7 linked regions of the Homo sapiens genome follow. The protein of the gene in region 1 purifies or fractionates together with the protein of each later gene. This does not show direct contact. Each region holds a gene or a part of one and is shown in the gene's direction. Other genes may lie near its edges.

Region 1 (4,467 bases):
TGGCACGATCACAGCTCACTGCAGACTCATCCTCCCAGGCTCAAGTGATCCTCCCACCCCAAGCCTCCCAAGTAGCTGGGACCACAGGCATGCATCACCACGCCTGGCCAGTTTTATTTTTTTCTGGAGACAGGGTCTCACCAAACTGGTCTCAAACTCCTGGGCTCAGGCTATCCTCCTGCCTTAGCCTCCCAAAGTGCTAGGATTATGGGTGTGAGCCACTGTCCGTGACCTGGTTGTGGTTTTTTTAGTTTTCCTTTTTTATGCTTAGCTGCACATTCTAAAATGAGCATGCAGTATTTGTGTGTTGTAATTAAAAAATGAAAGCAAAGCCTGCCTCCTGAAACCCCATTCTCCATCTACCCACATTACACTTCCCTCCCACCCTGTAGGTAAAGTAATAACAACATAGTTTTGCACTCCCAGACACTGGCTATGCCGCTTCTAAGCAAGCATGGCTCAAATGCTGTTACTCCACTATATTCATAGTGTTTATCAGGAAGGACCTGAAAGTACCCTTGCAAAGAACCCTATTGAATCTACTGTCTATGTCTATTGCTAGACATAGAAATAGATTCAGAGAGGCTAAATAGCTTGTCCATGGTCACATAGTGACTAAGTAGAAGACCTGGGATTCTGACTCCAGGGATTAAGATTTTACAAATGAGAAGATTTGTCCTTCACTCAGATTCTCCCCCTTCCTTCTATTAAAATACCTTCCCGGTGGGCTCTCTTTAGGATTAGAACTAAGCCATGAAATGGGGACCAGCAGGAAGCCAGGCACATTTCAGGCCTATTCCAGGAGGTGATGATCTCTTGTGATAGGCACCAGAAGACTTAAACAATTTTACATTTCTTCATGATTGCATAGCGTTGAATTGTTAATCATGGCCATGTCTGTGTGCAGCTACTCTCAAATCTATTTATTTAGATAGAGACAGAATCTTCTATTACAGGTAAAAAGACAAGTAAGGACTGTAACCAAGGACAAAATTCAATAACTGAGCACATTAAGATAACATCACATCAAGTCAATTTATATAAACAATTTTTTTTTCTTTTTTTCTTTTTTTCGAGATGGAGTCTCACTCTGTTGCCCAGGCTGGAGTGCAATGGCGAAATCTTGGCTCACTGCAACCTCCCGGGTTCAAGCAATTTTTTGCCTCCGCCTCCCAAGTAGCTGGGATTACAGGCGTGCAGCACCACACCCAGCTGATTTTTGTATTTTTAGTAGAGATGGGGTTTCACCATGTTGCCCAGGCTGGTCTCGAACACCTGACCTCAGGATGCCTGGGCTCCCAAAGTGCTGGGATTAGAGATGTGAGCTACCATGCCTGACATTTTTTCTTTTTTAATATCACAAGAGGATGTATTTGTGGAAATAGCCTATTGACTTTTAAAACAGTAAATTAAAAAATTTACATACAAACCCATTTTAAGCATACAGTTTTAGTTTTGACAAATGTGTACACCTATGTAAATACAACCTCAAGCAAGCTAGAAAACACCTCCATCATTGTAAAATATGTTTTGCGTTTCAAGTTGTCCTAGATTTTCACCGTATGGTTATAAACTGAGATCATTTGGTCTTACCCTTATGTTCCAGAAGTCCCCAAGCACCAATACAGGTAAATGTGGCTGGGTAAGTGATTCTGGGAAATGTTTTCTCTTCATAACTTTCTAACAAGATGCTTTTTTGATCTGTTGTTGTTTCCTCAGCAACTGTTCCTAGAACATAGTCTACTGACGGCCAATACCACTAAAGGAATCTATGCTGGAGTCTGTATTTCTGTCTTGGTGCTTCTTGCTCTTTTGGGTGTCATCATTGCCAAAAGTAAGTCATTTCGAGATTGTTCCTAAGGGACAAGGGATGTACAGCAAAATTGCCTGGGTTCACTAGTTTCATAAGTCACATGATTTTGATTTCACACGACTTCCCTTTGTCTCCCCAAATCCTCATTTGTAAAAGTCACATGGTAATACCATCTACCTCAAGGGGGAAGGGAAATGAAGTTTAAATGCATTGGTACCTACAAAGCACTAAGAATGGGAGCTGGGTGTGGGGTCTTATGCCTGTAATCCTAGCTACTTGGGAGGCTGAGTGAGGCAGGAGGATTGCTTGAGCCCAGGAGTTCAAGACTAGCCTGAACAACATGGTGGGACCCCATTTCTTAAAAAAAAACAAAAACAAAACAAAAAAGCAAAACAAAACAAACAAACAAAAAAACCATTAAAAAAAGCACCAGCCAGGAGCAGTGGCTCATGTCTGTAATCCCAGCACTTTGGGAGGCTGAGGCAGGAGGATTGCTTGAGCCCAGGAGTTCAAAACCAGCCTGGGCAACATAGTGAGACATTGTCTCTAAAATAAAAGGAAAAGAACAAAAAGAAAAAGCACTGAGAATGGTTCCTGGCACATGACAAGTGCACAGCAATCTTAAACTGTAATTGTAGTTAGAAAGATCCTTTTGCCATAAATCTCTATAAATCTCATGGAAGTTACATTCTAGTGGAGTTTTCACTTAAAACCACTATTTTTTAAACTTGTTATTTTTCAATTATTATTCCCCTATGGAAAAAATTTAATTCTATAAGAATTTTTTTGAGACAGAGTTTCTCTCTTGTCTCACAGGCTGGAGTGCAATGGCACGATCGTGGCTCACTGCAACCTCCACCTCCTGAGTTCAAGCCATTCTCCTGCCTCAGCCTCCTGAGTAGCTGGGACTACAGGCGCCCGCCACCACGCCCGGCTAATTTTTTGTATTTTTTAGTAGAGATGGGGTTTCACCGTGTTAGTCAGGATGGTCTCGATCTCCTGACCTTGTGATCCGCCTGCCTTGGCCTCCCAAAGTGCTGGGATTACAGGCATGAGCCACCACGCCCGGCCGAATTTTTGTATTTTTAGTAGAGACGGGGTTTTGCCATGTTGGCTAGGCTGGTCTCAAACTCCTAACCTCAGGTGATCCACCTGCCTCGGCCTCCCAAAGTTCTAGGATTACAGGCATGAGCCACAATGCCAGGCCAAGAAAAACTAAATACAGGTGTTCCTCAGTACCCTTGGGGGATTGGTTCCAGAGCCCCTTGATTCCAAAATCTGCAGATGCTCAAGTCCCTTATAAAATGGTGTAGTATTTGCACATAGCCTACTCACTTCCTCCAGTATACTTTAAATCTTCCCTAGATTACTTAGAACACCTAATATACAACGTAAATGCCATGTAAATAGTTGTTATATTGTATTGTTTTTATCTGTATTATTATTGTTGTGTATTATTTTTATTTTTTTTTTAATTTTCAATTTGCGAGTGGTTGAAACTGAGGATGCCAAACCTGTGGACATCGAGGGCCAACTGTATCAAGAAATAGGAGTTTGTTGGGTAGTGTTGCGATCTGGAAGTCAACACACCATTGTGATATATAAGATTTATTTTCTCCACCCTACAAGATCTAATTTTTTTCCCTGTGGGGGTGATATTGTTAAAATTTTGCAACACTCATTTAGCAGAAGAGGCACATGAGACACTGGGAGGGGAAACTGATAGCAAGACACAGACTAAAAAAGTAAAACAAAAGTCTTCAAAAAGCAACCACCCCAGGCTTCATGTCTCCCTTCTGCTAACTGTGTGTGTGTGTGTTTGTCTCAGTATAACCTGCCTCCCATAAAAGAACCCTAGTTAGCTATTTTGCAAGATGTGGTATTTGAAGCCATGACTGATTTAGTTCATGGGTCTAGGCAGAGGAGAATCAGAAAATTAAGAGTATGTTTGGCAAATTTGAGGAAGTTTTTATATAATTATTTTGGAGCTTGCTTAGTCAAAGTTATTTAGAAATTGGGTAAAATACCTTGCAGGGAAGTTCAAACTTTCCCTCTGAAATTTTGATACTTGAGTACGCCAAAAAAAAAATAGATTATTAGGAGATTAACAGGAGAAAATGAATACATATTTATTATGTGTACAGAAGCCACACAAAATATGAGATGGAAGAAAGGGCCAGATGACTGGAGCTTAAATACCCTTTTCTTTCTTTTTTTTTGGAGACAGAGTCTCTTGCTCTGTCACTCAGACTGGAATGCAGTGGTGTGATCTCAGCTCTGTGGGGGAAAAGAAAGAGAGATCAGACTGTTACTGTGTCTATGTAGAAAGAAGAAGACATAAGGAACTCCAGTTTGTTCTGTACTAAGAAAAATTCTTCTGCCTTGAGATGCTGTTAATCTGTAACCCTAACCCCAACCCTGTGCTCGCAGAAACATGTGCTGTGTTGACTCAAGGTTTAATGGATTAGGGCTGTGCAGGAGGTGCTTTGTTAAAAATGTGTTTGCAGGCAGTATGCTTGGTAAAAGTCATCGCCATTCTCCAGTCTCGAGTACCCAGGGACAAAATGCACTGCGGAAGGCCTCAGGGACCTCTGCCCAAGAAAGCCTAGGTATTGTCCAAGGTTTCTCCCCACTGAGACAGCCCGAGATATGGC
Region 2 (4,078 bases), on another chromosome or scaffold:
TGGCCCCAGCTACTTGGGAGGCTGAGGTGGGAGGATTCTTGAAGTCTGGTGGTTGAGGCTTCAGTGAGCTGCGATTGTGCCACTGCACTCCAGCCTGGGTGACAGAGCCAGAACCTGTCTCAAAAAAAAAAAAAAAATTATATAATTCATCTATTCAAAACTACTAAATAATTTTTTTTTTTTTTCGAGACAGAGTCTTGCTCTGTCGCCCAGGCTGGAGTACGATGGTGCGATCTGGACTCACTGCAACCTCTGCCTCCTGGGTTCAAGCAATTCTCCTGCCTCAGCCTCCCAAGTAGCTGGGACTACAGGTGCCCACCACCATGCCCAGCTAATTTTTGTATTTTTAATAGAGACAGGGTTTCACCATGTTGGCCAGGCTGGTGATCCATCCACCTCAGCCTCCCAATATTAAATAAATTTTTTAAATCCAAATACTAATATGAGAGGTTTTTGAACTCTCATAGAGTAGGACCCAGAGTGTGTCCTCAGGCTAAGGGAGGACACCACCCCTCATATTGTCTTATGCCCAGTTTCTGCTTCCAAAGAAAGAAAAAGTAAAAATTAAAAGGCAGAAATGAAATCCACAAGCAGACAGCCCGGCGCCACACCCTGGGCCTGGTAGTTAAAGATCGAGCCCTGACCTAATCGGTTATGTAATCTATAGATTACAGACATTTTATAGAAATGCACTTTGAAAATCCCTGTCCTGTTTTGTTCCAATCTAATGATCGGTGCATGCAGCCCCCAGTCACGTACCCCCTGCTTGCTCAATCAATCACGACCCTCTCACATGCACCCCCTTAGAGTTGTGAGCCCTGAAAAGGGACAGGAATTGCTCACTCTGGGAGCTCGGCTCTTGAGACAGGAGTCTTGCCGATGCCCCCCGGCCGAATAAACCCCTTCCTTCTTTAAGTCGGTGTTTGAGGAGTTTTGACTGCAGCTCGTCCTGCTACAAAGCCACCAGGCTATCTCTAGGATCCCTTATGGGGCCCCTCAGGGTCCTCTCTGACAACTCCTTCTTGGGTCCTGGCTGAAGATCTCTGCTGCCCCCAGACTCAGAAGAGCCACTCCAGGACTCAGGGAGTGGCTGGCTTTGGGCCAGCCCAGCCCTCCAGATCCAAGGCGGGTCCCCTATCTCCACAATCAAATGGTGTTCTGCCTCCGGCCCTGTCCGGGGACCCTGCTCACCAGCCACGGGCGGTTTAGGCCAACCTCCCTGCCTCCTCCCCAGTGCAGACGCAGCCTATAAAACCACCCTGTGTGTCCTTGCGGATCCTGGCCCCTCCCTGGACACCCAGGCGACAATGGCAGAACTGCCCACAACAGAGACGCCTGGGGACGCCACTTTGTGCAGCGGGCGCTTCACCATCAGCACACTGCTGAGCAGTGATGAGCCCTCTCCACCAGCTGCCTATGACAGCAGCCACCCCAGCCACCTGACCCACAGCAGCACCTTCTGCATGCGCACCTTTGGCTACAACACGATCGATGTGGTGCCCACATATGAGCACTATGCCAACAGCACCCAGCCTGGTGAGCCCCGGAAGGTCCGGCCCACACTGGCTGACCTGCACTCCTTCCTCAAGGTAAGTGCTGTCTCAGAAGACTGGCCACTTCCCTGCTGTGTGACCTCGACCCAGCTACCTAACCTCTCTGAGCCTCAGTTCTGTCATCTGTGCCATGGGGATGGAGGAGCGTCTTCTTCCTGGGTTGAGAGGCCCCAGTGAAATAGTGGAGCTGCAGAAATCTGGGCACATGTTGGAATGTATATTAGCCAATCACTAGCAACCCAAAGCTAGAGTGGGAGGCCTAGAGAGGTAATGAGCTTCCAGTGAGTAGAAGCATGCAAGCAGGTTGCACACCCCTGAAAGAGACAGGGCAAGAAGGGCCTGGGAAGGTTCACCTCAGAGAGAGGGCTCGCCGGGTTTGCTGCCCGGGAGGCTGGACTGTGAAGAGTGGAGGGCTGGAAGGTGGATTGTCATGACCCCTGTCTGGCCTCACTTTTCCCATATGACAATTGGGCTGAATTGTTCTTTTTTCTTTTCTTTTCTTTTCTTTTCTTTTTTTTTTTTGAGACGGAGTCTGGCTCTGTCGCCCAGGCTGGAGTGCAGTGGTGTGATCTCGGCTCACTGCAACCTCTGCCTCCTGGGTTCAAGTGATTCTCCTGCCTCAGCCTCCCGAGTAGCTGGGATTACAGGAGCGCACCACCACACCCAGCTAATTTTTGTATTTTTAGTAGGGATGGGGTTTTGCCATATTGGCCAGGCTGGTCTTGAACTCCTGACCTCAAAGGATCCACCCACCTTGGCCTCCCAACGTGCTGGAATTACAGGCATGAGCCACCACGCCCAGCCCAGAATTGTTCTTGATTCTGAGGCTAAGACTTACTAAATTCGCAGGCCTTTTCTCCACCCCAGAGCAAACCAAGACATGGCCCTTGGCTCCATACTGAGATGAAGTGCCAGGAAGAAAGCCCCAGAGGAGGGCGTCAGTCACTTGGGGCACAAACTAGGAGACCTCCCAGTGCCCCAGAGGTAGAGGCCTGGTTTCAAGACCCAGCCCTCCAGGGACCAACTATGTGGCCTTGGACAAGCTTTCACCTCTCCAGGGTGATAATAATCCTGTCGCCCATTACAAGGCTAGGCAACTGCCTAATCACTTCTAAGGCCACTGCTCTCCTAGGGGGAGGAGGTGTTATGAGCAGGAGCGCCCAGGACTCCCAGTCTCCCATGGCATCTGATCTTGGATCACTGCAACCTCCACCTCCTGGCTTCAAGAGATCCTCCTATGTCAGCCTCCTGAGTAGCTGGGACCACAGGTGCACACCACCATGCCCAGCTAATTTTTGTATTTCTTAGTAGAGACAGGGTTTTACCTTGTTGCCCAGGCTGGTCTTGAACTCCTAAGCTCAAGCAATCCACCCACCTTGGCCTCCCAAAGTGCTTTTACTACAGGCGTGAGCCACTGCTCCTGGCCTAGGGAGCATTTTAAAAGCCCCTCAAGCAGCTCAACACCCAGTGGGCTGAGGGGTCGGGGGGTGCTCGGTATGGGGCGCAGTGGTGCAGGTCAGTGGGCTGGATGCAGAGACGCCGTCCCTAGCACCCCTACCTGCCTGACTTGTGGTCTCTGGGCTGCCAGCAGGAAGGCAGACACCTGCATGCCCTGGCCTTTGACAGCCGGCCCAGCCACGAGATGACTGATGGGCTGGTGGAGGGCGAGGCAGGCACCAGCAGCGAGAAGAACCCCGAGGAGCCAGTGCGCTTCGGCTGGGTCAAGGGGGTGATGGTGAGTGGGGTGTGGGTGGTGCGTGATGTCCAGAAATGGGGGTGGGGTGGCAGAGCTCCATCCAGGCTCAGCTCTGACTCTCAGGCCCTGGTGGGGCTTCAGTTTCCCCATCTGTACAATGAATTCAATGAGTTAATAGATCAATAGACAATAGATTAAAGCCTGCCGGGGAGTAATTAGAAGAAACTGTGTTTCCCTAAAAAGCCACCAGGGGGCTGCACTAAACACACAAATCCGTAAATGTGTTTTTCTCCTCCATGAAGGGAAGGAAAAGGTTTGCTATAGTGAGGAGCAGGATTAAGTTTCCAGACAGTAGACAATCAAGGACACTTGGCTTTGGAGACATTATGGGACTTTACAGAGGGGATCTTATGGGATGTAGAAGGCTTTAGCCCTGCTCCGGGAGGCAGGAGGCTGGGGTTCTGATCTTAACGCTGCCAACTGGCTGTGCCTCCGTTTCTCCATCTGAACCACGAGCCCTCCCCGACCCCCAGATGCTCTTATTCAGAGCTGGGATCTCCCTCCTGGGCTGTGTTGCCAGAGCCGGGAACGGCCCTGCAACTCAGTGGGGCCAGCGACCACACCAGCCCCTCCCACCTGGAAGCTTCAGCCTCCATCTCGGCCTCTGGCTTTGCTTTAAATTTGGAAGCTGAAGTCACAGCCACCTGAGCTCTGATATCTGCTCTTACATGGGGCGCTGGCTCACCTGGCATTTGCTGAGCTCCCTGTAAATGCCAGGCTCTGGATCAACTGCTGACCACTGGGGCCATGGTCGGGGCTGGCAGACACA
Region 3 (3,838 bases), on another chromosome or scaffold:
TAGCTGCCACTTAAGGCTTAAACCTGATAGCTGAGTCTGCTGGGAATGTCTTGTACCTGAGTATCTGTGATGCTCCTCACAGTCTTGGTGCAAGAGCTGACAGAACATGACTTTGGCAGGAAACCCATGCACACCTCTTTTCCTGGTTTTGGAATTCTTAACCTGTGTTGTTTTTTATGGCTATTTGTAAGCGTAAAGAGTACTGTAAGAGCTTTGATCATCTTAGTAAGGGTCACAGGTGTCATCTGTTTAAGCAGATATTTTCTTTATCAGGGATAAGGGAACTATTACTTGATAAATATTTCTGCCCTTTGGAGAGAGCAGCATTACAGATTTGGAAACCAATAAATTTGAGTAGGCTAAAAACTTGGTGATTCAAAGTATGACTCTGTAAACCTGGTCAAGTTCCTTAAACGTTAGTCCCCTCATCTTTTAAGTGTGTACAATGTCTATCACATTGGATTGTTTTAGGAATTAACTAAGTTAGGTCCATGTTGTTTGTTAGTGTCTAGCAAAATTGTAAACACACAATGACTGTTAGCTATGATATCTGAAGGGGTAATTATTAAAGGCTTGGTTCAATTTTAGGCTCCTTTAAGGAACAGTGGATATACTGAGTAACATTTGACGGATGCTAGGAATGAAGTTATATTCTTTTTCTGTTTAATTTCAGATGTACTGGCGAAGAATATTTGGTAAAGCAGGGCATCGATCTCTCACCCTGGGGCTTGTGGAAGAATCACGTGGCCTTGGCTTGTATGATTGTTATTTTCCTCACAATTGCCTACCTGAAATTGTTATTTCTTAAAAAATATTCTTAAATTTCCCCTTAATTCAGTATGATTTATCCTCACATAAAAAAGAAGCACTTTGATTGAAGTATTCAATCAAGTTTTTTTGTTGTTTTCTGTTCCCTTGCCATCACACTGTTGCACAGCAGCAATTGTTTTAAAGAGATACATTTTTAGAAATCACAACAAACTGAATTAAACATGAAAGAACCCAAGACATCATGTATCGCATATTAGTTAATCTCCTCAGACAGTAACCATGGGGAAGAAATCTGGTCTAATTTATTAATCTAAAAAAGGAGAATTGAATTCTGGAAACTCCTGACAAGTTATTACTGTCTCTGGCATTTGTTTCCTCATCTTTAAAATGAATAGGTAGGTTAGTAGCCCTTCAGTCTTAATACTTTATGATGCTATGGTTTGCCATTATTTAATAAATGACAAATGTATTAATGCTATACTGGAAATGTAAAATTGAAAATATGTTGGAAAAAAGATTCTGTCTTATAGGGTAAAAAAAGCCACCGTGATAGAAAAAAAATCTTTTTGATAAGCACATTAAAGTTAATAGAACTTACTGATATTCCTGTCTAGTGGTATAATATCTCAGGAATCTTGGCTGAGGGTTTGGAACTGTGGGTAGAGTAGAGGGCCAGGAGTCCAGTAATAGAATTCTTGCACCATTTCTGGAACATTCTAGCTCTGGGAGGTCACGTAACCTTCTTGGGGTAGTTCAGTGGTTTAGTGGTTTATAATCCAGGTGTGCGTCAGAATCATCTGAGGAACTTTGCTAAAATACAAAAATCTGGCCTAAGTAGCTCCAGATCTACCTTCATAAAGGAATCTGACCACTCCTGGATTTGGTAATTTCCAAGTTCTGAAAATTTTACTTAGGATTTAATAACTATTAACATCTGTCCCTACATAGGTTTTCTTTCCTACTTATATACCTTATGTTCTCTTCATTCTAACCTTCATCAGTAATAGGGAAATGTTTTAATTTTATTTTTTTAGTTGAAGGGTAATGTACCAAAAAATATAGTTCAGTGAATTAAAATGAACACACATGTGCAACCATCAATTCAGGTCAAGAAATAGAAGATTGTAGCACACAAAAGCCTACTCAGCCATTCTCCCAGTCACTACTTCCTTCCTTACCCCTGGGTTATTTTTGAAATGACACTTGATGTATTTCCCTCTGTTGCTGTTATGAGAACATTGCTACAGCCAAGTGTTGTGTTTCTGTGTGCATAGGTTGATACTTAATTATCTCCCCACTTTTTAATAAACTTTTAATTTGGAAATAATTTTAGATTGACAGAAAAGTTGCAAAGATAGTGAGGAAAGTTCCTGTCTACTCTTTGCTCAGCTTCCCTTAATGTTAACATTTTATATAGCAAGATGCATTTGTCAAAGCTAACAAGTTAACATTGGTACAATCACTGTTAATTAAACTGCACACAATATTCAGATTTCACCACTTTTCCACTAATATTCTTTCATTGTTCTAGGATTCAATTCAGGAGACCACATTTCATCTAGCCCTCTTTTTTAAAAGTAAATACTTTTCAGCACTTACAGGAGTTAACTGAGCTGGGGCATCATGGTGTATAGACGCCCTGACACTGGTCATCTTGGAATTCATTTAGTTTGTCAGTGGGTGCCCTGACATTCTGTCACAACATCAATTTGGGAACATGGCATTATATTTTTATCTTTGAACTTTTTTCTTTTTGGATGACATTTGATTAATGCGTCATCTTGGAACACATTATCTTTTTTCTTGGTTATGTGATCAGGAAGATTAATCAGTTTTTCCTGTTCTTGGTATAATTCCTGCTTTTCACATACCTGTCCCTTACAGTTCTCTATATATACCCTTCCCTTATTACACAGAGAGAAATATCTATCTATACTTTTTACACAAAATATACTTCAAAAGAAACAAAACAGCCACAATTATTAACTTTTTAAATAAATGAGAATTTAATTATATCCTATTTTATGTATTCTTTTTTTATATTAAAATTACCTTTATATGCTTTTGTTGTGGTAGGAACCAGATAACATAAAATTTACCATCTTAACCATTTTAAAATTAAGGACTTTTTTTTTTTTTTTTTTTTTGAGATAGAGTCTCGCTTTGTCGCCCAGGCTGTGGTGCAGTGGCGCGATCTCGGCTCACTGCAAGCTCCGCCTCCCGGGTTCATGCCATTCTCCTGCCTCAGCCTGTAATGGCTGGGACTACAGGCTCCCGCTACCACGCCCGGCTAATTTTTTTTTTTTTGTATTTTTAGTAGAGACAGGGTTTCACTGTGTTAGTCAGGATGGTCTCCATCTCCTGACCTCGTGATCCACCCGCTTCGGCCTCCCAAAGTGCTGGGATTACAGGCCTGAGCCAGCGCGCCTGGCCAGGAACTTTTTTTAAAGTATGGTTTATTTTCTTATAAAGTAGAAATGTACTTAAGGATATAGATATCCATATATATTATATGTACCCTATATATTATATATATTCTCTGTATTTTTATATCCTCTCTATATATTATATCCTATATATAATTTCTATCTATATAATTATATATATAATGTATATATAATTTATATCTTATATATGGGTATGTATATCCTTAAGTAAATTTCTACTTTATAAGAAAATAAACCACACTTTAAAAAAGTTCCTTAATTTTAAAATGGTTAAGATGGTAAATTTTATGTGCTCATTTTATGTTTTTTATATATATATATTCTTTTGATTTTATTTTCCTGGATGTCAGAACTAATCTATAATGGAGACGAATTAATGTGGTTTAACATAAAAGAAATCTCAGTTAAATGAATATAAGTTGCTATTTATACTGTTTATACTATAAATGTATACTATCTATATTGCTTTGCATTCTTTAGTGGCAATATATACTGTTTTATGATACCTCACTGTACTGTGTCTAAAGAACTTTTCTTTTGGATGTAGCAGTAGGATTATAACAGGTCATTGGCTTGACAACACCTGCAGGTCATTACAGTGTTTTAAAAACTTTTGTCTG
Region 4 (4,467 bases), on another chromosome or scaffold:
TCTAGAAGTTACGACATTCTAGCTGGCAACAGAAGTTTCTAGGTAGCACAGGCACAACTTCTAGAAACCTTTCCAGCAGTGTTAGGATTGCCCAGGAATGCTCCTGCACTGCCCTCTCTTGCACTACTCATCCTCAAAGAGTTACGTGTTAGAGATGCTTGGGGATTTTCAAGCATTATTCGGTTGTCAGATCTAGTATCCCGAAGTGACCTTAAGGGGGATGATGGCAAGGCCCACATGTCAGAAAACAGGGCATTCCCTAGTGGGTTCTGTATCTTAGAAAAAAGTGTTAAGTGTAGCTTGCACTCTTGCAGGATTTTTTTTTAAGTTGAAATCTGGTGGAAATGAATACCCTTCTGGAAAATAAACAGCTGTTCTTAGAGTAGCATGTTGCTTTACAACTAGATACAAAGGGGCTAGAAGGTAGGAATTGTTGAGAAGACACTAGGGTTCCTGACTTAATAGGACCCTGCAGCTATTTTAGTATTAGCCGGAACTGCCACTTTTCCCCTGCTAGTCCTCTGTTTGACTATGTCACATGCTGCTCTACCTTCCTTGTTACTAGAGATTACTTGAGACTCATTCTTCAAGGTCGGGGCCTTGGGAAATTATCCTTGTGAATGAGATAACCTGTTGGTAGGTGCTTTAACAGTGAAGTTCTGTAGCGCTGTGGTACCCTGCTGCTGTTCTCTGTGTGTGACTCTGCTTCTGCATTCGGGATGTGAAATCCCTGGCATAGGCCCAACCCTACCCATAGAGTGTAGCTATTAATGTCACCTCTCAAGGAACACATGTTTATTTCAACAGGTGTCTTTTGAAGAACATTTTCTTGAAATATTTAGCCCTCTCGTCCTGGCTCATTCCTGCATATTCTTTAGTTGTTAGCTTAGCTGCATTTTTACTGGGACATCTTCCTTGCTTTTCCACCTCTCAGCACTGTTCCTCCTGTGTGCTGTCAGAGGACTGTGTGTGTACTTCCGTTTCCTGGCTGGTAGTTGCCTTTTTACTTGTTTGTATCCCCACTGAAGACAGTATCTTGAGAGCTGGCACTGTCTTTCACCTCTATAGCCATCCTATGTAGCACACAGTTTTACACTGGCTAGGAACTCAGTAAATATTTTATGAATACATGTTTTAGTGTTAATGACAATTTCAAGTGCTATATTAGACCAGTTAGGTGTATTTTTTAAAAATTCCTTGCAAAGGCTTCACAAAGGCTTAGAGGCCATTTAAATATCTATATATAAAGGTACAATATGTAATATCTGTTTATCAATATATAAAAACAGATGTGTGTTTGTGTGTTTCAACGGGGAAATGAGGAATTGCTGGTAGAGCAAATGTAGGATGAGGAAATTGGAAGGAGCGAGGGCCAGGGTTAGAAATTTCCTTACTAGAGGTGTCCTGCGTATTTGACTCGAGCTTTCTAGCGGCAAATCAAGGTCAGTGAGGATTGTTGTTGTTTTTGGTAGGCAGGTTTTTTAGCACTCCTCAGTTTATATATATCTGAGAGGCTATCTCTTGTTACATAAAATTTTGGTGTTAAAGCTCACTGTTTTTCAGACTTCTGTCATCCTAGGACAGTCTTATTGTTAGTTGGGGAAGGTGTCACTGATGACGGTTTTCTAAAGCTACCTGTAGCGATGGTAGTATTATAAGGTGATAATAAGTGACAATTACTGTTAGTATTTTGAGACCACTGAAGCTTATGTATTTATTTGTCTCTGATTTTAGTTTACTACAGTCAGCATGTGCCAGGCACTGTGTTAGACACCTGAGAGTCTTCTTTAGCTTCAAGGTGCTTACTGAGTAGTAGGGGCAAACACATAAAAAAATATAATTTTATACAACATGATTTATAAATAAAGAAGATATATGCCTTGTACCTTAGGAGCCTCAGGGTTTGAGGAAGTTTTCCAAGAGGGTTATTCTTAGCCAGTAGAAAAAAAGTGAGGAAGATGTTCTGTCACGTCAGAGATGTGGTAGCCTGGAATGGCATGGTACCCATGGAGTGAGCAAAGATGGGAGGTGTGAAAGGCGTGGTATGTATCGGCATTCCAGCAGCACACTTACCAAGGGTTGAAAGCGTGTAGGGGAGCAGCGAGAGACATACTTGAAGACACTGCCAAGGTCGAAGAATGCTTGTTCTAGATACCATCTTAGGGATAATGAAAAAGTTCAGAAAGGGCTTTAAATGGCAGTAGCGTAGATGGATTCATAGGGGCAAGATTAGAAGCTGGGAGACCATGGATATTAGGCAAGAAATTATGAGTATTTGTTGGCAAGATACAGTGCTATTAATTGGAAAGAGTTATTTAGGAGATTAGCAAATAATTACACATTGGGTGACATGGTTGGGAGACAGCTCAGTGCAGAGATAAGAGAAAGAAGTATTGGTGAATTGCATGGTTTTGCCCCAGGCAACTGGGTGGACGGTGGAACTGTAAATTGAGAATGATTACAATAATGCTAACATTTAAGGGGTATTTAGTATGTTCCAAGCACTGTGCTGTATGCTTTACACAAAGTAACTTATTCCTCATAATAACCTGTGAAGTCGGTAAACTATTACCCCCATTTTATAGATGGGGAAGCTGAGACCTGGAGACAAAACGGAAGTCCCACTTAGCTAAGATTCTAAACCAGACATTCTGACTCCAGAACCCAGCGCATAGACTCTATATTACGGCAATATTATAGCCCATACCATTGTCAATAATAGTATGAAATTTGACATCTCCTAATCAACTTTATATCTCACACATATGGAGTGATGACAAATAATGCCTTAGGTCACCACATTAGTTGGAGAAATGTAGCATTAAATTACCGTCTCTTATAATAAATTACCATCAAATAATGAATTTGTGCCAAGTACAAGAGCACTGAATTTCCCAACAATAGATTTATAAATAACAATTGGAGGAAAGTTTAGAAGTAGGCAGTATTTTGAAAATTTGGCAGTTGCTTTTTATATTGCTTGTTTTACATTTTTAATACAAATGTAGGGGGAATTCTCAGCATCTTAGTACTTCTCTTCACATAGCTAACCTAGTGTCTTACAGTGGAAACGCATGTATTCCGTTGGAAACAGGAAGACAGGAAGTAGAGGCAGTGGATAAAGACAACCCTTTGAAGAATTTTTTTCTTTCTTTTTTTAATGGGAGCAGTGCACAAGTGCAGGGACTTGAGATGGGAGTACTGGCAGCGGAGCGGTGGGAGCGGTAGGGAAGCTCAGTACGTGAGGGGTGCAGCTGCAGAGAGTTGATCAGTGTGGTGTTGGAGCGTGTGCTTCCGTATTTTCAAGGAAATAAAAGAAATGAGGTTATGAGGCCTTCCCTTCCACTAGTCCTTTGGGACCGTTCTTGTCAAGAACCCTGGTGATGCCCATACTGCTAGACTCCCGGTCAGTTCACCATTCTCCTCCTCCTCCATTTGACAGTTCGTGATTCCCTCCTCTTTTCTGAAATGCTTTCTTCACTTGCTGGTGACCATTCTCTTTTCCCTTCTGCCTCACCGCCACTTCTTCTCAGCCTCATTTGCCTCTTGCCTCTTTATCTTCTGGACTTCAAGGTCCAGTGCACAGTAGATGGACTGCCTTTTTCTCTGTTTGCAGCCGCTCCCCAGGGGACCTCATGAAGCCCGGTGATTCTGAATGCCGTGGATCTGCCGAGGATTCCCAGATGCGTATTTCTCCTCCGTACTTCCCCACAGGACAGCAGGCTTGAATAGCTGATTGCCTATGCAGGACAACAGGCTTGAATAGCTGACTGCCTATGCATTCTCTTTGCTTGCCAGTTTTTTGGACATCAAACTTGACAGATCCAAGATTATTACTTTGATCTTCCCCACACCCCTCCCACCCCCGAGTCTACTATGGTCCCATCATAGTATTCTGAAAATCAGTGAATGGCCACTCTACCAGTTATTTCTACCAGTTTTTAGGTTCTAAACCTCAGGCATTCTGGACTCTTCTGTTCATTATCATATTTTGAAGGCATTATCTTCAAAATCTATCTAGACTCTGACCCTTTCTCCCATCTCCACCATTACTGCCGTGGCTCTTCTGCTGGTCGGCTCTCTCCTGGTGGATCGTAATAACCTGCAGTCAGCTATCCTGGTCCAGAGGGAGCCCGTTAAACCCTGTGGAATCTTATCACGCTTCTGCTCAGAACGAGCCAGTGTCTTTCTGTCTCACTCAGAGTGTAAGCTACAGTCCTTATTGTGGCCATCAGGTGCTGTGTGTTCTCCAGCCCCCTCCCCACCACCGCAGTCCTGCCGGTGATCTTAGCTGCTCTCCCCTCGGCACCCCCTGCGGCCCCCTCTGCCGCAGCACTCGTGGCCTGCTGTTCCTTGAACATGCTTGGTGTTTTCTCTCCTCAAAGGCTTCTTTCTGTTTACCTGAAATGTACTTTCCTAGGGAATCTATCTGGCTCACTCGCTTACTTTTTCCACATCTTTGCTTAA
Region 5 (4,467 bases), on another chromosome or scaffold:
ATTGGGATGGAGAATGTGAATTTGGGAGAGACGGCAGATGAAATCAGGGGTGTGGGGGAAACAACATTTGGTGGAAAGAGTTGACATGAGGACATGTTTGTGACATACGTACTAATAAACATGGAATTCTAGGGTCTTAAGAGTGTTCAGGGGAACAGGCTTCGCCTAGCTAAGTGCTCATGGGCCTCCTTTTCACTTGCGGTTCTGCATTTCCTTTTACTTATTTTTTTCCCAACTCTATCGAGGTGTGATTGACAAATGAAATTGTAACAAAGGTGTACAAAGTGCTGAATTGATACATGTATGTATTGTGACATGATTACCACACAAGTTAGTGAACACATCTGTCACCTCACCTTGTTGCTTGTGTGTGTAGTGAGAGCAGTTGAGACCTACTGTTAGCACATTTCAGGTGTACAGTATTGTTGACTCTAGTCACCTTGCCGTCCATTAGAGCCCCAGAACTTACCTAGTCAAGTAGAGAGGTTGGCTCTGCCTTTAACGAGTCTAACCACTAGAGGGCATTTCTGCATTTCAGAACAGAATTGCATATTAGCTGATGCTTTCGTGTTGCATCATAGAGCAGCACTTCTCACCGCACTCCTTGGAACCCTCAGGGCAGGGTTTGCTTCAGAGGGCAGGTGAGACCAAAAGAGCTGGCCGTTAGCTGCAGCGTTTGCCTTTCACTTGTGTAAGCTGTCCCTTAAAAAGGAAGAGCCGCCTGGCGCGGTGGCTCATGCCTGTAATCCCAGCACTTTGGGAGGCCGAGGTGGGCAGATCACAAGGTCGAGAGAGCGAGACCATCCTGGCCAACCAATATGGTAAAACCCCATCTCTACTAAAAATACAAAAATCAGCTGGGCGTAGTGGTGTGTGCCTGTAGTCCCAGCTACTGGGGAGGCTGAGACAGGAGAATCACTTGAACCCGGGAGGCGGAGGTTGCGGTGAGCCAAGATTGCGCCACTGCACTCCAGCCTGGGTGACAGAGTGAGACTCCTTCTAAAAAAAAAAAAAAAAAAAAAAAAAAAAAAAAAAAAAAAGGAAGAGCCAGGGAACAAAGGGAGCCTTGCAGAGCATTTCCCTAAGGTCGGCCGCCGGGTGGATGTGGATCTGCCAGACTGCACTGAGCGGGAGGTGGCAGGGAAATGAGTGAGAGCCTAGGGACCAGAAAGGCTTCTCCAGGGCATGACCGAGCTGATGGCTCCTGGGTCTCTGCACAGGCACTGCGGGTGATGGGGAAGATGATGCGAGAGTGTTGGTATGCCAACGGCGCAGCCCGCCTGACGGCCCTGCGCATCAAGAAGACCCTCTCCCAGCTCAGCGTGCAGGAAGACGTGAAGATCTAACTGCTCCCTCTCTCCACACGGAGCTCCTGGCAGCGAGAACTACGCACAGCTGCCGCGTTGAGCGTACGATGGAGGCCTACCTCTCGTTTCTGCCCAGCCCTCTGTGGCCAGGAGCCCTGGCCCGCAAGAGGGACAGAGCCCGGGAGAGACTCGCTCACTCCCATGTTGGGTTTGAGACAGACACCTTTTCTATTTACCTCCTAATGGCATGGAGACTCTGAGAGCGAATTGTGTGGAGAACTCAGTGCCACACCTCGAACTGGTTGTAGTGGGAAGTCCCGCGAAACCCGGTGCATCTGGCACGTGGCCAGGAGCCATGACAGGGGCGCTTGGGAGGGGCCGGAGGAACCGAGGTGTTGCCAGTGCTAAGCTGCCCTGAGGGTTTCCTTCGGGGACCAGCCCACAGCACACCAAGGTGGCCCGGAAGAACCAGAAGTGCAGCCCCTCTCACAGGCAGCTCTGAGCCGCGCTTTCCCCTCCTCCCTGGGATGGACGCTGCCGGGAGACTGCCAGTGGAGACGGAATCTGCCGCTTTGTCTGTCCAGCCGTGTGTGCATGTGCCGAGGTGCGTCCCCCGTTGTGCCTGGTTCGTGCCATGCCCTTACACGTGCGTGTGAGTGTGTGTGTGTGTCTGTAGGTGCGCACTTACCTGCTTGAGCTTTCTGTGCATGTGCAGGTCGGGGGTGTGGTCGTCATGCTGTCCGTGCTTGCTGGTGCCTCTTTTCAGTAGTGAGCAGCATCTAGTTTCCCTGGTGCCCTTCCCTGGAGGTCTCTCCCTCCCCCAGAGCCCCTCATGCCACAGTGGTACTCTGTGTCTGGCAGGCTACTCTGCCCACCCCAGCATCAGCACAGCTCTCCTCCTCCATCTCAGACTGTGGAACCAAAGCTGGCCCAGTTGTCCATGACAAAAGAGGCTTTTGGGCCAAAATGTGAGGGTGGTGGGTGGGATGGGCAGGGAAGGAATCCTGGTGGAAGTCTTGGGTGTTAGTGTCAGCCATGGGAAATGAGCCAGCCCAAGGGCATCATCCTCAGCAGCATCGAGGAAGGGCCGAGGAATGTGAAGCCAGATCTCGGGACTCAGATTGGAATGTTACATCTGTCTTTCATCTCCCAGATCCTGGAAACAGCAGTGTATATTTTTGGTGGTGGTGGGTTTGGGGTGGGGAAGGGAAGGGCGGGCAAGGAGTGGGGAGGGAGTCTGGGGTGGGAGGGAGGCATCTGCATGGGTCTTCTTTTACTGGACTGTCTGATCAGGGTGGAGGGAAGGTGAGAGGTTTGCATCCACTTCAGGAGCCCTACTGAAGGGAACAGCCTGAGCCGAACATGTTATTTAACCTGAGTATAGTATTTAACGAAGCCTAGAAGCACGGCTGTGGGTGGTGATTTGGTCAGCATATCTTAGGTATATAATAACTTTGAAGCCATAACTTTTAACTGGAGTGGTTTGATTTCTTTTTTTAATTTTATTGGGAGGGTTTGGATTTTAACTTTTTTTAATGTTGTTAAATATTAAGTTTTTGTAAAAGGAAAACCATCTCTGTGATTACCTCTCAATCTATTTGTTTTTAAAGAAATCCCTAAAAAAAAAAATTATCCAATTGAACGCACATAGCTCAATCACACTGGAAATGTTTGTCCTTGCACCTGAGCCTGTTCCCACTCAGCAGTGAGAGTTCCTCTTTGCCCTGAGGCTCAGTCTCTCTCGTATTTTGTCCCCACCCCCAATTCCTTGAGTGGTTTTTGCTCTAGGGCCCTTTCTTGCACTGTCCAGCTGGTTGTACCCTCTCCAGGCATTTATTCAACAAATGTGGGTGAAGTGCCTGCTGGGTGCCAGGTGCTGGGAATACATCTGTGGACAAGACATGCTTGGGTCCTACTCCTGGAGCACTGTAAAAAGAGCTGATTCAAGTAAGTAGATGCCTGTTTTGAGACCAGAAGGTTTCATAATTGGTTCTACGACCCTTTTGAGCCTAGAATTATTGTTCTTATATAAGATCACTGAAGAAAGAGGAACCCCCACAACCCCCTCCACAAAGAGACCAGGGGCGGGTGATGAGACCTGGGGTTTAGAACCCCAGGTGAGACCTCAAATCACTGCATTCATTCTGAGCCCCCTTCCTGTCCCCAGGGGAGGTGTATTGTGTATGTAGCCTTAGAGCATCTCTGCCTCCAACCCAGCAGTTCTCTGCCAAAGCTTGTGGAGGAGGGAGAGCCCTGTCCCTGCCCTCAGGCTCCCCAGTGCTCCTGGCCCTTCTATTTATTTGACTGATTATTGCTTCTTTCCTTGCATTAAAGGAGATCTTCCCCTAACCTTTGGGCCAATTTACTGGCCACTAATTTCGTTTAAATACCATTGTGTCATTGGGGGGACCGTCTTTACCCCTGCTGACCTCCCACCTATCCGCCCTGCAGCAGAACCTTGGCGGTTTATAGGTAATGATGGAACTTAGACTCCTCTTCCCAGAGTCACAAGTAGCCTCTGGGATCTGCCAACACACGTCCACTCCCAAGCCACTAGCCCACTCCCCAGTTGGCCCTTCTGCCCTTACCCCACACACAGTCCAACTCTTCCACCTCTGGGGAAGATGGAGCAGGTCTTTGGGAAGCTCCCACACCCACCTCTGCCACTCTTAACACTAAGTGAGAGTTGGGGAGAAACTGAAGCCGTGTTTTTGGCCCCCCGAGGCTAACCCTGATCCATAGTGCTACCTGCACCTCTGGATTCTGGATTCACAGACCAAGTCCAAGCCCGTTCTTACGTCGCCATAAAGGCCCCCGAACGGCATTCTCGGTACTTCTGTTTGTTTTTGTACATTTTATTAGAAAGGACTGTAAAATAGCCACTTAGACACTTTACCTCTTCAGTATGCAAATGTAAATAAATTGTAATATAGGAAATCTTTTGTTTTAATATAAGAATGAGCCTGTCCAATTTCTGCTGTACATTATTAAAAGTTTTATTCACAGAGCTGCTCTGGTGCCATCTGTCCCACATACGTAGTACGGCCACCCAGCTTTTGTCAGGGGAGTTGGGAATGGGGTGGATGTTCTAAGGTCAGGGTCTCGTGCTCACACCAGCTGTAGCAGACCCCAGCAAGAGGAATGCTGTTCCCAACATCCT
Region 6 (4,467 bases), about 30 Mb from region 1:
TGGCAGAGATAAACACTGATTCGTAATTACCTCCTCCCCTCCTTCCATATCTAAGTCATTTCATAGGGTAATGTCAAGGGCCACATAAATAAGTAAAGTACTAAGTTAGTTTTAATAAAATGCATCCAGAATTCCCAAGCAAAAGAAAGGAAGGGAAGTCTTAGCTAATGAGGTCAGTGTTTCTGTGGACATCGGTAGCATATGTGTTCAGGGCCTACTGTTCCAAAATGGAAGTACAGAGAAGAGTACACCAGATGTCTATCTGCTTCCAGGGAAAACCTGAACCATGAGGAGAATTGGGTTGGTTTGCTATAATTTGGTCACCATTGTTTAATAATCTGGATGTCTAAATGTCTTGCGATTTTAATTTTTGAACATTCACTAACATCTAAATAAGAGTAGAGATCTCGATCCTCTTCTCAGTTCAGCTTCTGAATCACCTGGCACCATCATTTAACTTTACTGAGCCTCTATAAAATTAAGATACAATAATGCCCTATTTCTACTCTCCACTTGATAGTGATATTCCCAGTACTCAGGCAAGAACATGTTAATTAATAAGAGCTCTTTGAATTTCTTTGAAGCTGCTGAGATGTCTGAGGTGGCATGACAACACATGGCAGGATTAATATCATTTGCACTTATTTTGGTATTTATATTAAATATAATGCAGTATTTAAATTCGCAGACAAGTCAGCTCCCCATTATCTATGTTTTAATATTTATTTGTGTCCACTTTCGAGGTGAAACTGACTGTATTCAGCATTTCAGCCCGTGTTTAAGGTGGCTTGTCCCTGAAAGGTGGAGTGTTGGGGATTCATGCAAACATTTGAGGAAGGGCACCTCCCAGAAAACTTTCTTTGGTGCCTTTTACCTCCTGCTTCTTTTACTCACTCATTGGGGTTTTGCCAGGCCTTACACTGCTCTTTCCTCAACTTCTTTCCCTCTTTGCCGCTTTTCTATTTTGTCGTTCCATGCTTGAGCATGGCCTTCCCCTCCCTCTCCTGTCAGCCCCACCCACTCTTGTCTCACCCATCATGGCCCTTCTCTTCCTCCCAGTGGTTTTGTAGGATTCGCTGCCCTGGCCACTTGGGCTGCAAGTGGCCAGTGCTCCTGTTTGGCAAGCCAGCTGTGTGGCACTGCTGGGCACGCATCAGCAGACAGTCAATGCTAGGTCCCTGTTTGTTGGTAGGAACAAGATGGAAGGCAAAGAGTACCAGTGTCTCTCCTCACCCCAACCCCATCGTCTGTGTTTGACCCCACTCCTTCTCTGGACTCCTTGGCCTCTGTTTACTACATGGAACAGTGAGATGGGAATGTCAAATTATCTGTAGAGTGTTTCAATGCTAATCTGAAGAAGAGCTATCAGGCCTCATTACTCATGTGAATTGACACCAGTATGTAAGCACTGAATTAAATCTATTGTCGAATGGATTTTGGAAAGCATTATAGCAAGCATTAAGCAGGTACCCAAATGGGAGGACAGCCATCCTATTTTCCTAACTGTAGAAATTCTATTTAGTCTTTCAACAAGCATGAGGTTTTCCCCATCCTTTTGGGGATTAGTTCAGTCAAGATGGCAGCATAATCAAGATGTCAGAGGTGGTCCTAAGTGAGGAGGTTCAGGATCCAAAAGCCAAGAGTGGGCATTAATGAGTTCATGGGGTCAGGTGAGTATTATTCCGTGTTTGGTATCCCCAAGACCATCCTCAGGCTCAATTATTCACTAAAAGTACTCACGGGACTCAGAAAAAACTGTTATACTTATGGTTATGGTTTATTACAGCAAAGGGATACAGATTAAAAGCAGAAAAGGGTGAAGGTGCATGGGGTGAAGTCCAGGAGAAACAAGACACAGGCTTCCATGTGTCCTTTTCTAGTGGAGTCAAACAAATATGCTTAATTCTTCCAGCAATGATTTGTGACAACATGGGCGAAGTATTTGCCAATCTGGGAAGCTCACCTGAGCTTTAGTATTCAGGATTTGACTGGGATCAGTCACACAGACATGCAATATCTGCATGACTGACCTCAGCTACTCAAACTCCAGGCTCCCAGGGCAAAAATAGGTGTTCACCATAAATCACATTGTTGGCATAAAGTGTCTCATCATACTAGTATTGTGGGCCCAAGGCCTCTGGCATGCAAAATACTCTTATCAGGTAAAATGTTACTAGGACTCAGAGCTCATCTCTCAGAAGCTGGTCAAGAGCCAGTCCTAAAAACAGGCCTGTCTTGGGAATGTGCGGGGCTTGAGCAACTCAACCGTTTCCAGCACATATTCCCAGGGTGAAGACACTGGAAGGCTTTGGACACATGACTGAACTTCTCCTACCTCAGCTGTCACCTTCCAAGCGTAACATTCTCTCTTCCTTCCACATGGGATCATTGTGATTCTGAATAGTAACGACTATTTTCACAAAAAGTAGGTCATCTACAGCAAGGACACTATAAATTATTATTGTTATTTGTATCATATCATTATTATTCAGGGGGTGGAGCATGGGAATGAGCCCTGAACACTTCCTTGTTATCTCATAACAAGTCAGAAATGCCTTTTCCCAAGGTTCTGAAGGCAAAGATAACTTCAGAACAGCGTGTCTCCACTCCACACTGGCATTTAACCCTCTCCCTTGCTCTTCTCTGTCTCCCTTTACCTGGCAGTGGCTGAGAAACCCTGGCCCCCAGCATGAGAAGCGGACTCTGTTTGGCGACATGGTGTGCTTCTTGTTTATAACTCCCCTGGCCACCATCTCGGGCTGGCTGTGCCTGCGGGGCGCCGTGGACCACCTGCACTTTAGTAGTCGGCTGGAAGCCGTCGGACTGATTGCACTCACTGTCGCACTCTTCACTATTTACCTCTTTTGGACACTAGTAAGTATGGGCCGTGGCTGGGGTTCAGGCCATTTGGAGCTGGCAGCCTCACAGCTGGCACAAGCCTTTCCTCTTGTCTGTAACACATCTCACCTGCCCGGTAGAAAACAGACCTTCGATTGCTGGCGGGAGCATGAGATTTGGTTTATGACTATGTGTGTGTGTGTGTGTTTGTCTGTGTGTGTGTCTGTGCTGCTAAGGCGGATCACATAAAGAAAAAGTTTGGCTTCTGGGTGTCCATCAGTCAAAGACACAGACACACCATGGACGTTTCTCTCCTCTAGTAGTCTAGGACTCCATCTGTTATGAGTCTTGGCATTTTCTTTCCCTTGTTTATGTTTCTCATTTTTGCCGGGATTGTAGTATATTATGAATGATGCATTTGGCTGCTGTTGCTGTCACTGCCTGCACAGATCGTGAATCCTCCCTGCTGGTTATTTCCTTCTTACGTCCTGACACAGCCTAAAGTCTTTGTTGGACGTGGAGCCGCACTTTGCCTGGTGATTATTCTGTGTGTTGGGATATTGACTCTGCTGCCCATAAAAGCACTAATTTATCTAGCTGAGAAGCTGCCACCAAAGAAAGGCCATTTCCCAATAAGTGTTCTCGCTGTGTGTGAGGAAGAATTTTTACATATCACTTTTTTCATTCTTTTAACTTTTAACTTCATGCAGTAAGTTGATCGCTTGAGTACCAGTTGACAGCACCCACAAAATGCAACATTTGATCTCTCTCCTTATGCTTTCCTCTGGGAGCTGCAGGGAAGGACATCACTGTCTTCTAGAATATTTTCAGAAGCTGGGCCCCCTGCTTCCTGGCATTACTCTCCTGTGCCTGCTCGTTTCTAATCTGAGCACGTTCCACTGTTATTCAATATGTATTTCCTGTCTAAAGTGTACCATTCCCATATCCCATAGCACAGTGTCAGCATGTGGAAGCTGCTTCTAGCACATACTTCCTCCCTTTCTGTGTCTCCCAGACCCTGTTCCTCCAGCTGCCACTCCCACAACCCTGTTCATTTCCCTCTTCTTCATCATATGGCTCTTCCAGCTCTGTGCCTCCCCTCCAGTGAGAGTGTTCAAACAGTAAGGAGATACATTTCAGTTTCAGTAAAGAGGGAGTGTTCTAATGCTAAGAACTTATCTGAGTCTTATGGTTAATTTAGACATTCTGTTCCCAGGCTAGTGAAGCCCCAAGCAAAACTATTATTGCTTCCTTTAGAAGTCTACGCTTCCAGCTGGGCGCGGTGGCTCATGCCTGTAATCCCAGCACTTTGGGAGGCTGAGGCGGGCGGATCACTTGAGGTCAGAAGTTCGAGACCAGCCTGGCCAACATGGCGAAACCCTGTCTCTACTAAAAATACAAAAATTAGCTGGGCATCGTGGTGCATGTCTGTAATACTAGCTATTTGGGAGGCCAAGGCAGGAGAATTGCTTGAACCTAGAAGGCAGAGTTGCACTGAGCCAAGATCGTGCCACTGTACTCCAGCCTTGGTGACAGAGTGAGACTCCATCTCAAAAAAAAAAAAGTCTACGCTTCCAAAGTTCATCCTGGTTCATTTTGAATCAGGCAACGAAGCTGTTCCAGTAGCTT
Region 7 (4,467 bases), on another chromosome or scaffold:
TGAGATGGAGCCTCACTCTGTCGCTCAGGCTAGATCAGGCATGATCTCGACTCACTGCAACCTCTGCCTCCTGGGTTCAAGCAATTCTCCTGCTTCAGCCTCCCAAGTAGCTGGGATTACAGGTGCGCCCACCACCATGCCCGGCTAATTTTCGTATTTTTAGTAGAGACAGGATTTCAGCATGTTGGCCAGGGTGGTCTCAAACTCCTGATCTCAGGTGATCCACCCGCTTTGGCCTCCCAAAGTACTGGGATTACAGGCATGAGCCACCACACCCAGCCTAATTTTTAAGAGTTTAAACTTTTTGAGACCAAAACGTTTGAGAACTATCCACTTAATGTTTATGAAACTTTAAAAGAAGACTTTTATAAAAGGTAATTTCTGTATATTTCACTGTGCGATGTGAATGATATGCTTGAACTGTCTTACATTTTAGGTTCTTGGAGAAAGGACCTCTTTTAGCATAGCATGACACCCTCCTCCTTGTCATTGCTGATTAGATATAGGAACCCCGCTGGGTTCCAGGTTCCAGTAATTTTTTGTTGTTGTTTGTTTTGAGAGGGGGGTCTAGCTCTGTTGCCCAGGCTGGAGTGCAGTGGTGTGATCTTGGCTCACTGCAACTTCCACCTCCTGGGTTCAAGCGATTCTCCCGCCTCAGCCTCCTGAGTAGCTGGTACTACAGGTGCATGCCACCATGCCCGGCTAATTTTTTCTATTTTTTTTTTTTGTAGAGATGGGGTTTCACCATGTTGGCCAGGCTGGTCTTGAACTCCTGACCTCAAATGATCCACCTGCCTTGGCCTCCCAAGTGCTGGGATTATAAGTGTGAGCCACTGCGCTGGGCTCAGGTTCCAGTAATTGGTTGTGGGTTCTGACACCAGCTGGTGCATGGCCTCTTGCTTTCTTGTGTGATTTGGTTTTTATTCCCAACTTCATGGACTGCTACTGCTTAAGCTATCTGTACCTCACCCCTCCTTTGTTAAAAGGGGAGATTAGTAAATGGGTGTTAAGAAAAGTTGTTTTTATAATATTGGCATCAAACTGAAGCTCTCTCCTAGATATAATAAAGGAATTGAAAATCTATTAAGAGAAAAAAAACACAAAATATTAAAGAAGAGAGTGGATGGTGAGGAAAAATTAGGCAGTAGTCATTTTCTTTTCCAGCTAAATACTGGTGGGTGTCTTTCCAATTTGAGTGGTTTTAGAGTTTGTTCTCCATGAATGAGAAGAGTATTCTTGATTATTCAGTAGCATAGTTGATTTTATGAAGTGAACATTGGAAATTAGGCCAGAGGGTATTTTACCTCTCTGTCTAGGAAAGCCACCAAATGCCTGCAGAATGCTTGCACATCGTTCTCCACAGGCTAGGTCCTGAGCAAATGCTAACATAATTGAATTGAACTGAGGCTTACACTTAGTCCTGAAAGGCACTTGTCTCCCCTTCTGTCTGAATGCCCTTTTGTTCCTCCATTCTTCATACTCTAACATTCCCTCATTGATCTAGTCCAGGCAGTATTCTTTAATAAAACCCCTGTACTATTGCATAACCATAATTACTCATGCTTTTGGAGTCATTGAAATGCTTCTTATTCTCCTTATGGTAGAAGGAAATCAAGATGTTTGAGAGGTCAGTCTTTAAATGACACTTGACTGCAATCTTGGCCTTCAAGTTCTGCTTGCTTTTTTTTTGTTGTTGTTGTTTAATTTTTCTTTTTTAGAGATGGGGTCTTGCTCTGTCACCCAGGCTACAGTGCAGTGGCATGCTTCTAGCTCACTGCAGCCTTGATCTCCTAGGCACAAGGGATTCTCCCCGCCGAGTAGCTGGGACTACAGGTGCATACCACCACACTTAGCTAATTTTTTTTTTTTTTTTTTTTGAGATGCTATTTCGCTCATTGCCCAGGCTGGAGTGCAATGGCATGATCTCGGCTCACTGCGACCTCCACCTCCCAGGTTCAAGCGATTCTCCTGCCTCGCCTCCCGAGTAGCTGGGACTACAGGCATGTGCCACCATGCCTGGCTAATTTTGTATTTTTAGTAGAGATGGGGTTTCTCCATGTTGGTCAGGCTGGTCTCGAACTCCTGACCTCAGGTGATCCACCCTCCTTGGCCTCCCAAAGTGCTGGGATTACAGGCATGATTCCCGGCTAATTTTTAAAAATTAGTGACAGAGTCTTGTGGTATTGCCCAAACTGGTCTCAAACTCCAGGCCTCAGGCAATCCTGCCTCATCCTCTGAAAGTGCTGGGCTTATAGGCATGAGCCACCATGCCCAACTTTTTCTGTCTTTAAGTAGAAGTATTTACCAGTTGACCTCAGCCCTGGTATTTTTCAGCCCCCAGTAGTAGTAGGAGTGTCTTGGCCTCCTTTTCATTGAGGACCAGCTTACTGAACTCCATAATGTGCCTCAGTTGAACTGACTGTTGCGTTCTGGGACATGCTTCAAGTTGCCTTTTGGTTTCCCTGTCCAGGGTCCGGAGGGTTACAGTGGACTCGTCAGTCATTCTCTGAGTTGTGAGCCTGTTGCTACTGCTGCTTTGTTATTCAGAGGCTGGGGTTCCAGGGGAGCAGAGACAGAGAAGACTGCTGAGGACTCTAGCTAGCTGCTTTGCATAAGAAAGTAATTCTGAAGACTTATGATGTGAATATATGCATTTTGCATTTGCCAGTAAATAAGTTAGTTTGTCTTTAAGAATAAATTGATTCTTTTTGGAGGGAGAAGGAGGAGTTCTGTATTTTTCTTGTCCTCTCAAATCCTTGGAAGGCATTTTTAAAGGAGCTGGCTTCAAGATCGACCAGTTATTGTTAGCGACATGGACCTAGCTAGTTCCTAATATGAGTACTGAGTTGGTAAAAGCAGATGGGTGTATGTTGTCTGCTGTGACCTGCCATTCAGGAAGTGACACCCACAGAAAAATATCTTATGACCCAGACTAGCTTGAGTAGGCTGTGGGGTGAGGGGACAAGGAGAGTCATATGATATGAGGATGAATCACTTGGATAGCATATTTGCTTTTTTCCTTTGAATTACCAGTTTGGGGACTGGAGGGAATTAGATGAATGTAAAACAACCTCAGAGGGCTGACTGGCCTGTTGAAGAAAACACTCAGGAGGGAGGGCCATAGTTTCTAGGCATCCCATATTTCCAAAGACCTTAGAAGATTAAGTTACTGTCTGCTATAGAAGATGGATTTAATCTGTGTGGCATCTCATGTCCTGGTTTCTTGCCTATCAGAATTACTTAAGAGAGCTTCATTCTAACCAAGTAGCAGAGTCTTTTTCCTGCTGTGATTTTTCTCTTTGGATAATAAGGCTGCGAGAGGAAATCTCTTCATCATTGATGAAGGAATTTCCTTAACCTCATTCCATAATAGATTTTTTTTTTTTTTTTTTTTTTTTTTTTTTTGAGGCAGAGGCTTGGTCTTGTCACCCAGGCTGGAGTGCAGTGGCGTGATCTCAGCTCACTGCAACCTCCGCCTCCTGAGTTCAAGTGATTCTCCTGCCTCAGCCTCCCGGGTAGCTGGGATTACAGGTGCATGCCACCATGCCCAGCTAATTTTTGTATTTTTAGTAGAGACAGGGTTTCACCATGTTGGCCAGGCTGGTCTCGAACTCTTGACCTCAGGTTATCTGCCCACCTTGGCCTCCCAAAGTGCTGGGATTACAAGCGTAAGCCACCATGCCCGGCCCATAATACCTTCTTTACTTCCTTCCAGTTGGTAAAGTTTTTAGTCTTTCTGTAATTGGTGCAGAACAACAGTGTGCATAATGTAACTTCGGAAATTAGAGTTTATGATGTTAAATTTCTGGCATACCACATACAGAAAGATCCCGTAGGATAAATAGGGCAGGGGTGCATGCAAAAAAAGAGAACATATAACCTGTGATAAGTTAATTCCTCATTTTTTTGGGGGAAAGATTACTTTAGAGCCCTCGATATGTGCATTAGGATATTGTATCTTTCTGGAGGGCAGGAAGCAGTACCATATTGGCATTAGATGCTGCCAGTGACTCACGATCTACCACTGAATTGGCTTCTGTACCTTTTTTTTTTTTTTTTGTGAGACAGGGTCTCGTTTGGTCGCCCAGGGTGAGGAATGCAGTGTGGGCAATCTAGGCTCACTGCAACCTCCGCCCCATGGGTTCAAGTGATTCTCATGCCTCAGCCTCTGAAGTAACTGGAATTACAGGTGTGCACCACCGCGCCCAGCTACTTTTTGTATTTTTAGTAGAGACAGGGTTTCGCCATGTTGGCCAGGCTGGTCTCAAACTCCTGGCCTCAAATTATCCACCCGCCTTGGCCTCCCAAAGTGCTGGGATTACAGGCATGAACCCTTGTACCTGGCCTGCTTCTGTGTCTTGCTCCTAGAAATGTAGCAATCCATTTACCTTGTTTGTTTGAAGCACAAAGTTAGAGGTAGGTACTTATATGAGGGAAAAGAGATGGAGAAGAGGGAAAAAGGAGCAA

Evidence for each region.
Region 2: the proteins of HAVCR1 (region 1) and SLC12A3 purify together in Homo sapiens (affinity purification with mass spectrometry, with the first as the bait; one large-scale study listed by BioGRID). This does not show direct contact.
Region 3: the proteins of HAVCR1 (region 1) and ABCG2 purify together in Homo sapiens (affinity purification with mass spectrometry, with the first as the bait; one large-scale study listed by BioGRID). This does not show direct contact.
Region 4: the proteins of HAVCR1 (region 1) and STAM purify together in Homo sapiens (affinity purification with western blotting; one study listed by BioGRID). This does not show direct contact.
Region 5: the proteins of HAVCR1 (region 1) and ACVR1B purify together in Homo sapiens (affinity purification with mass spectrometry, with the first as the bait; one large-scale study listed by BioGRID). This does not show direct contact.
Region 6: the proteins of HAVCR1 (region 1) and MARCHF3 purify together in Homo sapiens (affinity purification with western blotting; one study listed by BioGRID). This does not show direct contact.
Region 7: the proteins of HAVCR1 (region 1) and PI4K2A purify together in Homo sapiens (affinity purification with mass spectrometry, with the first as the bait; one large-scale study listed by BioGRID). This does not show direct contact.

Annotation. Positions count from the first base shown.
Region 1 is NC_000005.10:157,034,614-157,039,080, reverse strand, and holds part of HAVCR1 (hepatitis A virus cellular receptor 1 isoform a precursor), read left to right. Parts: intron 1-1,719; coding exon 1,720-1,834; intron 1,835-4,467. UniProt on the Homo sapiens protein: Phosphatidylserine receptor that plays an important functional role in regulatory B-cells homeostasis including generation, expansion and suppressor functions.
Region 2 is NC_000016.10:56,863,929-56,868,006, forward strand, and holds the start of SLC12A3 (solute carrier family 12 member 3), read left to right. Parts: upstream 1-1,278; 5' UTR 1,279-1,307; coding exon 1,308-1,589; intron 1,590-3,141; coding exon 3,142-3,288; intron 3,289-4,078. UniProt on the Homo sapiens protein: Electroneutral sodium and chloride ion cotransporter, which acts as a key mediator of sodium and chloride reabsorption in kidney distal convoluted tubules.
Region 3 is NC_000004.12:88,089,217-88,093,054, reverse strand, and holds the end of ABCG2 (broad substrate specificity ATP-binding cassette transporter ABCG2), read left to right. Parts: intron 1-673; coding exon 674-821; 3' UTR 822-2,786; downstream 2,787-3,838.
Region 4 is NC_000010.11:17,709,653-17,714,119, forward strand, and holds part of STAM (signal transducing adapter molecule 1), read left to right. Parts: intron 1-3,616; coding exon of another isoform or gene 3,617-3,728; exon of another isoform or gene 3,729-4,467. UniProt on the Homo sapiens protein: Involved in intracellular signal transduction mediated by cytokines and growth factors. Upon IL-2 and GM-CSL stimulation, it plays a role in signaling leading to DNA synthesis and MYC induction. May also play a role in T-cell development.
Region 5 is NC_000012.12:51,992,765-51,997,231, forward strand, and holds the end of ACVR1B (activin receptor type-1B isoform a precursor), read left to right. Parts: intron 1-1,220; coding exon 1,221-1,346; 3' UTR 1,347-4,314; downstream 4,315-4,467. UniProt on the Homo sapiens protein: Transmembrane serine/threonine kinase activin type-1 receptor forming an activin receptor complex with activin receptor type-2 (ACVR2A or ACVR2B).
Region 6 is NC_000005.10:126,876,592-126,881,058, reverse strand, and holds part of MARCHF3 (E3 ubiquitin-protein ligase MARCHF3), read left to right. Parts: intron 1-2,664; coding exon 2,665-2,874; intron 2,875-4,467. UniProt on the Homo sapiens protein: E3 ubiquitin-protein ligase which may be involved in endosomal trafficking. E3 ubiquitin ligases accept ubiquitin from an E2 ubiquitin-conjugating enzyme in the form of a thioester and then directly transfer the ubiquitin to targeted substrates.
Region 7 is NC_000010.11:97,646,236-97,650,702, forward strand, and holds part of PI4K2A (phosphatidylinositol 4-kinase type 2-alpha), read left to right. Parts: intron 1-4,467. UniProt on the Homo sapiens protein: Membrane-bound phosphatidylinositol-4 kinase (PI4-kinase) that catalyzes the phosphorylation of phosphatidylinositol (PI) to phosphatidylinositol 4-phosphate (PI4P), a lipid that plays important roles in endocytosis, Golgi function, protein sorting and membrane trafficking and is required for prolonged survival of neurons.